Linked DNA regions of Homo sapiens. Changing the gene in region 1 together with any one later gene gives a genetic interaction. Each region holds a gene or a part of one and is shown on either strand. Other genes may lie near its edges.

Evidence for each region. A genetic interaction does not mean that the proteins touch.
Region 2: changes in POLA1 (region 1) and MBTPS2 together harm fitness less than expected from each alone (positive genetic interaction), as found in Homo sapiens cells (one large-scale study listed by BioGRID).

The regions. Positions count from the first base shown.
Region 1 is NC_000023.11:24,738,335-24,742,863, forward strand, and holds part of POLA1 (DNA polymerase alpha catalytic subunit), read left to right. Parts: intron 1-1,040; coding exon 1,041-1,216; intron 1,217-3,040; coding exon 3,041-3,170; intron 3,171-3,667; coding exon 3,668-3,787; intron 3,788-4,529. UniProt on the Homo sapiens protein: Catalytic subunit of the DNA polymerase alpha complex (also known as the alpha DNA polymerase-primase complex) which plays an essential role in the initiation of DNA synthesis.
Region 2 is NC_000023.11:21,838,152-21,842,416, reverse strand, and holds the start of MBTPS2 (membrane-bound transcription factor site-2 protease), read right to left. Parts: upstream 2,801-4,265; 5' UTR 2,683-2,800; coding exon 2,608-2,682; intron 1-2,607. UniProt on the Homo sapiens protein: Zinc metalloprotease that mediates intramembrane proteolysis of proteins such as ATF6, ATF6B, SREBF1/SREBP1 and SREBF2/SREBP2.

The DNA.
Region 1 (4,529 bases):
TGAAGTGATAGCCCTTAGGGCAAGGTTGCATGGTTCAGAAATCGTTGAGTGCTATCATTTAGGAAGAAAATGGGAAGAATGAATGGAAGGGAGTTGATGTTGGTTGTATAAGAACGCAATATTGCTTGCTGATATCTTGTAATAAAAAAAAAAGGAAAAAAGAAGGCAATAAACTAAGTGCTTTCTGTGTTAGTTACCTCTCATGACAACTCCAGTTTTATTTTATAGACAGTCTCATAGGGGTAACGTAACTTGTTCTGGATCATGTAAGTAGTAAGGGGAAGAACTGAGATTTGAACCCAGGCCTGGGTGACTCTTAAAGCCAATGTGTACTTTTCATTCTGCCTGCTTGCTTCATGTATGGAGGTTTTGGCAGTTTTTGTATGAAGCACCTTCTTCCTAAACCTGATACTGCTCAGTGCTTGAAATCTTATTTTACTTAAAGCTTATAAATAAAATGGACATGTTGCCTCATCAGATAAGTTAGGAATCTGTACCTTTTTCGTAATGTTCTCTAGAGGATTCTGCCACTACAGATCAAAGTTGGGGCCACTGCTCTTGCTTCTTTTCTTATTCATATCTTTAAGGTGGTAGAGTTGTTATTAGCACTTCATCTGAACACTTGCTTAGCTTTTTACCCCCTTCAAGATTTTCTTTATGTGGCATCTTCTCAGTGAGGTATACCCCATTACCCTATTTAAGATGGCAGTCCCCCCGTATTCCTTGTACCCCTCACCCTGCTGTTTTCCCATTTTCCATCCACTTGTTACCTCCTAAAACTATATAATTTCTTGTTTATGATGTCTGTTTTTTATTATACATTTCAAATGAGGCCAGGAATCCTTTCTGTTTTGATCACTGCTGTATCCTGAGTGCCTAGAATAATGTCAGATACATAGTAAATGTTCAAAAATATTTGATTGATGTATGGAAGAATGAGAGTTTTATCATAATTTTGGGCCAGCTTCAAAATAGGTTAGAAAGAAATGTTCTCAGTGTCTGCTCTTTCATGAAGTTTGCTTTTTGTTCCCATCTTGTAGGGCCGGAGTGGATTTGGTGAAAGAAATGCTACCTGTGGTCGAATGATCTGTGATGTGGAAATTTCAGCAAAGGAATTGATTCGTTGTAAAAGCTACCATCTGTCTGAACTTGTTCAGCAGATTCTAAAAACTGAAAGGGTTGTAATCCCAATGGAAAATATACAAAATATGTACAGGTATGATCCTAGATTCTTCAGAATTCATCTGTCTTGAAATTAACAACAGCAGGACACTACTAGTACTATCCTTAGTCTGGAGGGACATGAGCCAGTGGTGTTGTAGAGGGGAAATTGTCTCTACTACTTTCATAATTTGAACTAGTTTACCTCTTGAATTATTGTAATTGATCAGTTTATCTCCGTCTCCCTCACCTGTGTTAACACTATCTTGATGTTTCCTAACAGTAGTTTGGATTTAGATTTCTACTCTTAATTCATTTATTCAGGAATTAGGGTAGATATTTTAGAAATATAAAAACTGAGCAATCATTAAGTTAGAGGTATTGCTTGCTTATTTCTTCCTCCTACTCCTCTGGCCATCTCTCATTCATTCCTGCTAGTTCTTCCTGAGTTCTTTCTTGGACTTCTCTTTTCTGACTTTGTTCTTTCTCTAGGTGATCTCATTGAGTCTTAGGAATTTAAATACCATGGGATGGCTATGCTTCCCACCTGTGTATCTTCAGGTTAGACCTCCCTAAATTCCACACTCAGTGTATCTGTTTTACCTATTTTACTTGATATCTAATGTGAACTCCCAGCTTGTTCAAAATTGAGCTCTGATCTTCTATCCTAGGTTCTTCCTATAGTCTTTCCTTACTAAATTAATAGGTGTATTTTTTCCATTATCACTGGAAACTTCCAGAGTCTTACTTAGCCCCACATGTCTGAGGCATCTTTAATTCCTCTCTCTGATATCCCACAGTAGATGCATCAGGGTATCCTATCAGTTCTATCTTCTAAATAGATCTAAGTCTGACCACTTCTTTTCAACTGCATTGGACCCATCCTATCCAAGCTGCTATCCTCTTTCCCCTGGATTACTGGGTTTATATGCCTATCCCCTTACTTTTGCCCTTACCCCCTTGTGGTCGATTCTCAATCCAGAATCAGAGTTATCCTGCTAAAATCAAGTCAGATGTGATACTCTGCTCAGAACCTTCCAGTGACTCTCTGTTTCATTCAGAGTAAAAACTAAAGTCCTTATTTTTACTTACAAGGTCCTTTACAATGTGTCTCTATGTCGTTAACTCTGTCCTTATCTCGTACTGCTCTTTCCATCATTCTCTCTGATCTAGCCATATTGGCCTCTTTCCTAGTCCTGGAACTGTCAGATTTGCACGCAGCTCAGGACTTTTGAATGTGCTATCCTGTCTGCCTGGAATGCTCTTTCCATAAGGCTTGCTCCCTCACCTCTTCAAGATCTTCATTCTCAGTAAAATCTTCCACTGTTTCCTAACAAAAATTTCAGTCTCTGCTTCTGATACTTAATATTCCCGTTGCTTAACTTTTAACATTATATAACATACTATATACTTAATTTCTTTGTTTTTTTTTATACTCTGTCTCCCCCGTGAGGACATAAGCTCCAGGAGGATAGGAAGTTTTGTTTGTTTTGGTCACAGCCAATGCCTGGCATATAGTAAGCATGCAATACATACTCACTGGATGGAATGAATGAAAGGATTTAGGTAGTTTTCAGGCTTGTAGTTATTATATTACTTCAGTTTTTCCTTATGGGATTTTGTGTGTGTGTGTGTGTGTGTGTGTGTGTGTGCGCGCGTGTGTGTGTGTGTGTGTTTTGGAGAAAAGCATTGGGATCAGTGGTATGAATGAATTCCTAGTTACATACTGACCTTATTTTAAATTGTTTCTGAAGCCAAGGTGCTGTTGCTCTGAATTTACTTACACCCAGAATTCCTTATAATATTTTGTGAAGTTCTGATTATAGGCATTGTTTCTTTTAATTACTTGATTCTGTTTCATTCTTACTTTTCTGTACAGTGAATCTTCTCAACTGTTATACCTGTTGGAACACACCTGGAAAGATGCCAAGTTCATTTTGCAGATCATGTGTGAGCTAAATGTTCTTCCATTAGCATTGCAGATCACTAACATCGCTGGGAACATTATGGTAAATTTAACTTAGAAAGGGGGAAAAAGCATTTCCTGTTGGATTCAGTGTTTGCTTGGGGTAGTTGTTATATGATAATGAGTCTAAATGCATGCTTATAAAATGAGTAACTTGGATTCTGAAAGCTGGATTTCTTTTGTAAAAGGAAGAACTGGTTGGGAGAAGGGGAGGAATGCCAGGTGCAGCGTGTTGAAATTTGGGTGAACATACGGATCATCTCTCTAACATCTGGATGTGTCTTTTTAGTGGAATGGTCCATTTGGGAGTAAATAAATAGCCAAGTTGTCAATATTTTAAGCTCTCTTTGTCTCCTTTAGCTATAATGCTTAAAGAAAACGTTAGGAATAATTTAGTACCTTTTTTTTTTTTAAAAAAAAAGCAGACCGTTATTAGGAATAGTTTTGAAGGAGGTGCTGTGACTAAACTTACTGACTCAAAGTTGCTTTTGTTAGTTGTGGTTTTGAGCTCAAATTTAAAAAATAAATTCCATTTAATAGTCCAGGACGCTGATGGGTGGACGATCCGAGCGTAACGAGTTCTTGTTGCTTCATGCATTTTACGAAAACAACTATATTGTGCCTGACAAGCAGATTTTCAGAAAGCCTCAGCAAAAACTGGTGGGTCCAAAACTGTGTAGTATTTTGTTTTCTCTTAACCCCCCCCCCCCTTTTAATACCTAGATAGCCTTTTTTTTCTGTGATAACATCTGCTTTCAAAATAGCTAATCCCTTGTGTACTAAAGAAACCGTGTCAAGTTTATTCCCTTGTTTTTGTGTGGTCATTTCCTTTTCCACTTTGTAAAAGGAAAATGCACTTTGTGCAGACAAAATTATTTGTGAAATGTGAAATTCTTTGAGGGAAGCATTAGACCTCTCTGATGGGTGACCATACATGGAATGTGTTCTGGCACCTCAGCCCTATCCAAAGATAAATGCCAGTTAAACTTTTTATTTTCTTAAACCTATGAGCCTTTATTTTTGTGTTGCATTTTTCTGTACTAGTATGACCAAGGTCACCCACAGTCAGGTTTCTGAAGTAGCCTCCATCACTTTGGAACTAAAACTTAGTTTAGCTACTGTTTTATTAGCACTGATATTAATTAATTCAGAAATGGGAATTGAATGTTAGAATTTGATTCAGGTTCTCATATTTGCTTGTTTTTTAATGTACATTATCAAAATTGGTATAGGGCATATTCATTTAGAGGACTTTAACTTCTGCTGAGGTATTGAATGTTGGCCAGTAATAAACTACTTAGGAATGGATTTTCAGTATATGGATGTACTTGTTTTATGGTGTCCATATTAATAATAGGGATAATGATAATACCTGCATGAAGTATTTTATGTTTTTACATCA
Region 2 (4,265 bases), 2.9 Mb from region 1:
GAAGGGACAGTTGCGATCAGTGTTTGCTTTCTTCTTCTGAGCAACAACTCTAAGAAGTTAGGCCAACCTCGATCATGTAAAAAGTAAAAAACTTATCTAAAGCCATCTTGGGCTCAATAATGTCCCTTAAATTCTCTGGGGTTGTGGGGATAGGGGCTTATACACAGCCCCAACAAGAGTTTTACCTTTAGGGAAGTTTGAAGTCCTTGACTAATATAGGATTTTGGATGACATAAGGCTGTGTTATATACCTGACACAGTAAGTACAGTAAGTATTGTCATATTCATGCCCACCCATGTGAGAAACTTATCTGTCCAAGAAGGAAATCTTAGCCCTATCATAGTCTTAAAAAATGACCATAGTCTGAATATAGGTAGCTGTTTGCTTTGGATCTGTAGTATTATCTGCTCTCAGTCTTCAGGTAGTTAAATTTTAAGTGTACTTGTTTTCCAAGACTTGGAAAAGGAGTGACACAACTTCTCTAACAGATGTCTATGCAGAAATCCTAGAAAAGCCCAGGGTGGATCAGCAGACCAAGCTGGAGGCAGAGAAACTAAAGGTGCAGGCTCCTAAAAGTTGAGGTCTCTCCATTTCCCAGGCAGATACTCTGAGTAGGCGTTAGGTCTTTTGCTCAGAGGTTGGTGCATTCTTAAGGAGCTAGGGGTTGTTACTGAAACCAGTGACATCTTGGTCACCTCACACACTTGTGACTAGGGACTGTAAAAGTTCTTTTTATTTTAGATTTTTTTCACATATGCAACATGAAGAAATCATGTGGCTTTGTGTGTGTGTCTTACTATGTTGCTCAGGCTGGCCTGGAACTCCTGGCCTCAAGCGATCCTCCCGCCTCTTCCTCCCAAGTAGCTGGGACTACAGGCTGCACCACCATGCCTGGCTCATGTGGCTTTTTCAAACAACAAAATCATTGTGGCCTGTATTGCTTATGACACGTTAACCACTATGCCAAGTACTTTAAATCAGTGCTTTTTCTTTTGAGACAGGGTCTTGCTCTGTCACCCAGGCCAAAGTGCAGTGGCACGATCTTGTTTCATTGTTAACCTCTGACTCTCAGACTCAAGAGATCCTCCTACCTCAGCCTCCAGAGTAGCTGGGACTACAGGCATGCACCACCATGGTTGGCTAACTTTTAAATTTTTTGTAGAGATAAAGTCTCACTATATTGCCCAGGCTGGTCTCAAACTCCTGGACTCAGGCAATCCTCCCACCTCAGCCTCCCCCAAAGTGCTGGGATTACAGGTGTGAGCCACTGTGACCGGCCACATCAGTGCTTTTCAAACACAAACAGGTGCAGAGGAGTCACCTGGGATCTTGCTAAGATGCAGATTCGGATTCCCTAGGTCAGGGGTGAGGCCTGGGATTCTGCATTTCTAACAAGCTCCGAAATGATGCAAGTGCTACTGGTCCTTGAACCTCAAGTTGAGGAGCGAGACTTTATGTGGATACACTAATGTAATTCTCTCTGTAATCTTAGGAGATCCTTACTATTATCTCTATTTAAAGATGAGAAACCAAGGCACAGATAGCAATTTTCCCAAGGTCACATTGGCTAGAAGCCCAGCCCTGGATCTAAGGACTACGCTATGTAACCTCCTGCACTTTACAAGTTTAAATGATAGAAGGAAAAGTCTCATTTCATTTTATTGTTAAAGCTAAAACATGCAATACTATGGTTTTCTATTTTAAATGGTATTCATAACATGAAGATTTTGCTATCCATAACTGGAATTTTTATTAAACACTTGAGAATTTATATGATCTTATTCCACATATATAGTTACTCTTCCCCATCCCCTACCCCCCAGTACTCAATTCCAAAAGCTTGCCTGAAGCATGTGGTCAGACGACTCTTCCTGATTTTTTGCTACCCTTCTCAAATAACTGGAAAATGGACCGTGCACCCAGGGTATCTGGTTAGTGTGAAGAAGTGGGGTGCAGCGTGTAAATCAGAATTCAAGTAGTTAGAAACTGGTTATGTAAATCCTTGCTATTTGAGTGTGCTACTTTGAAGTACACTCTGTGATCTGGCAGCATCAGTAGCACTTGGGAACTGGTTAGAAATGCAGAATTTTAGGCCTTGCCGCAGACCTGCTGAATCGGAATCTGCATTTTGACCGCAAACCAGATGATCATATGCATTTAAAAATTTGAGACTACTGATTTCAATCACGACTTGATTTAGATTCATTCCAATATCTGAGTCTCTAGAGCGTTTTGAACTTAAAAACAATAAGGGAAAGCACTGTCTTTACTAAGCAGACGTTTTCTTTTCCTCCCTGCTGCACTGCAGCTGCTGGGTCTGGCAGGGCCCCGGCCCTCCCGATCCCACCACTGGCGCCTCCCGGGCAGGACCCGAAGGCTGAAGGGCCTGCACTGCCCCGCACTGCGACAGTGGCAGCCGCGCAGGCCGCCACAACCCTCCCGCGGCCGGCAATGTTTTATTTACTCCACCGGGCCGATCCACCACGCGGACTGTCGCACGTGGGCACCGTCCAGCCCGGGAGGCGCCAGGCAGGGGAAGAGAAAAGAAGGCCTTGCGCTCCGGCCATGGGCACCGCGGGCTTGGACCTTAGGCCCAAGGCCCTCACCTTCAGCACCAAGTCGGTCAGGTAGACGACAGTCCAGCCACCCACCACCACCACCACCAGCGACACCGGAATCATGGCGGCAGCGGCGGCAGAGGAGGGAAGGCGAGCCCCGGCGTCCTCCTCCCTGCACCGCCAACAGCTGACCGCGCGCGCCTTACAGCCCCAGCATCCGCTCAGGAACCAAGCTACCGCCGGCTCCTTCCTTGCGGTGGCACGGTTTCCCACCGGACTCTTCCAGTGGGGACATACAGGAGGATTTGCTAGTACCGGAAATGGCACGGGGGCTTATTTTTGCGGGCGCTCGGGCGCTGCCGTCCAGGCAGTAGTTCGAACTCGGCATCTAGTCTTGTAGCGATTTCTTAGGCTTTGGCCCTCCCTGCTGTCTACTCTCCATTCTCGCCAGTTCTGGTCAGGGGTTTGCTGTTTCTTTTAACCCATGAGGATTTGGGGTCGTCTGAAGTAATAATCTCTCCCTCCCCGACCCTGTCATAGATATCCAGATTTAATTGTTTATCCTTTTTACTGAAGTGTAAATTTACATGTAATGAAATCATACATACAGAGCTCAATTGTCCATTTCTGTGAGTTTTGATAAATATATATATATATATATATACGTGTACCCTAATCAAAATGGAGAAAATTTCCCTCTCAGGAATTTCCTTCTTGCGTCCCTTCCTAGTCAGTAGCCCCTCCCCCTGTTCTGATTATTTTTAACTTTATGTAAATAGAAAGCAATAAGTACTCTTTGTGTCTGGCTTGTATCGTTCAACATGCTTTTTGAAATTTATCCATGTTGATTAAATTAGGCTCTTTTTTCAACCTTTTATAATATTTGAGATGGTGCTATGGTTAAAAATCAGAACTCTGAACACCTACACATTTTAACGTTAATGTATACCTGATTATATATTGAACTAGAGCAGCAGTTCTCAACCTTACCTGCACTTTAGGATCACCAAGGTCTTTTAAAATTCCCGATGCCCGTTCTGTATCCTCGACCAATTAAATCAGATGCTCAGTGGGACCCAAGCATTTATACTTTTTAAGCTCCTCAAGTCATTGCACTGTGCAGCCAAGGTTGAGAACCACTGAACTAGATAATCTCTAAGAGAAAAGAAAACTATTTATTGGGGTTTTTTTACGTTCTATTTATGTGCATCTTTAAAAGTTATTTGTTTCAACTTTTCTGGAAAAGCATCATTAGCTATAATAATGCTAATACCAAAATATTGAGAACATAATACTATCTCAAGAACAAGTATCCCAAATAAAAATGTATCCTCAACCCCCTTCCAAGTGAAAATATACAATAATACCAGAAACCTATATTACAAATATTGCTACTAATTTGCCTCATTCTCCCTGCTTTTCCTAAAGTTTTACTCACTTAGGGACATGTTTCTCCAGCTTCAAGACAGCTTATGACTGTTTTACATATCTTTGCCTATTTGTGTGTGTATGTGTTGTTATAAATTATTTCCGTTTTCTTTGGACATAGCTGGGTGTAAATTATAAAAGTTTGTATTCAAGCACCCTGTTACTCCACAGTTTTCCATATACAAGTATCCCAAAAGACTTAGTGCTGTTTTAAGCTTTAATAATTTCTGAAGTATTAATGCTACCAACTTGCAAAAAGTCACTTGAAGGTTTATTTA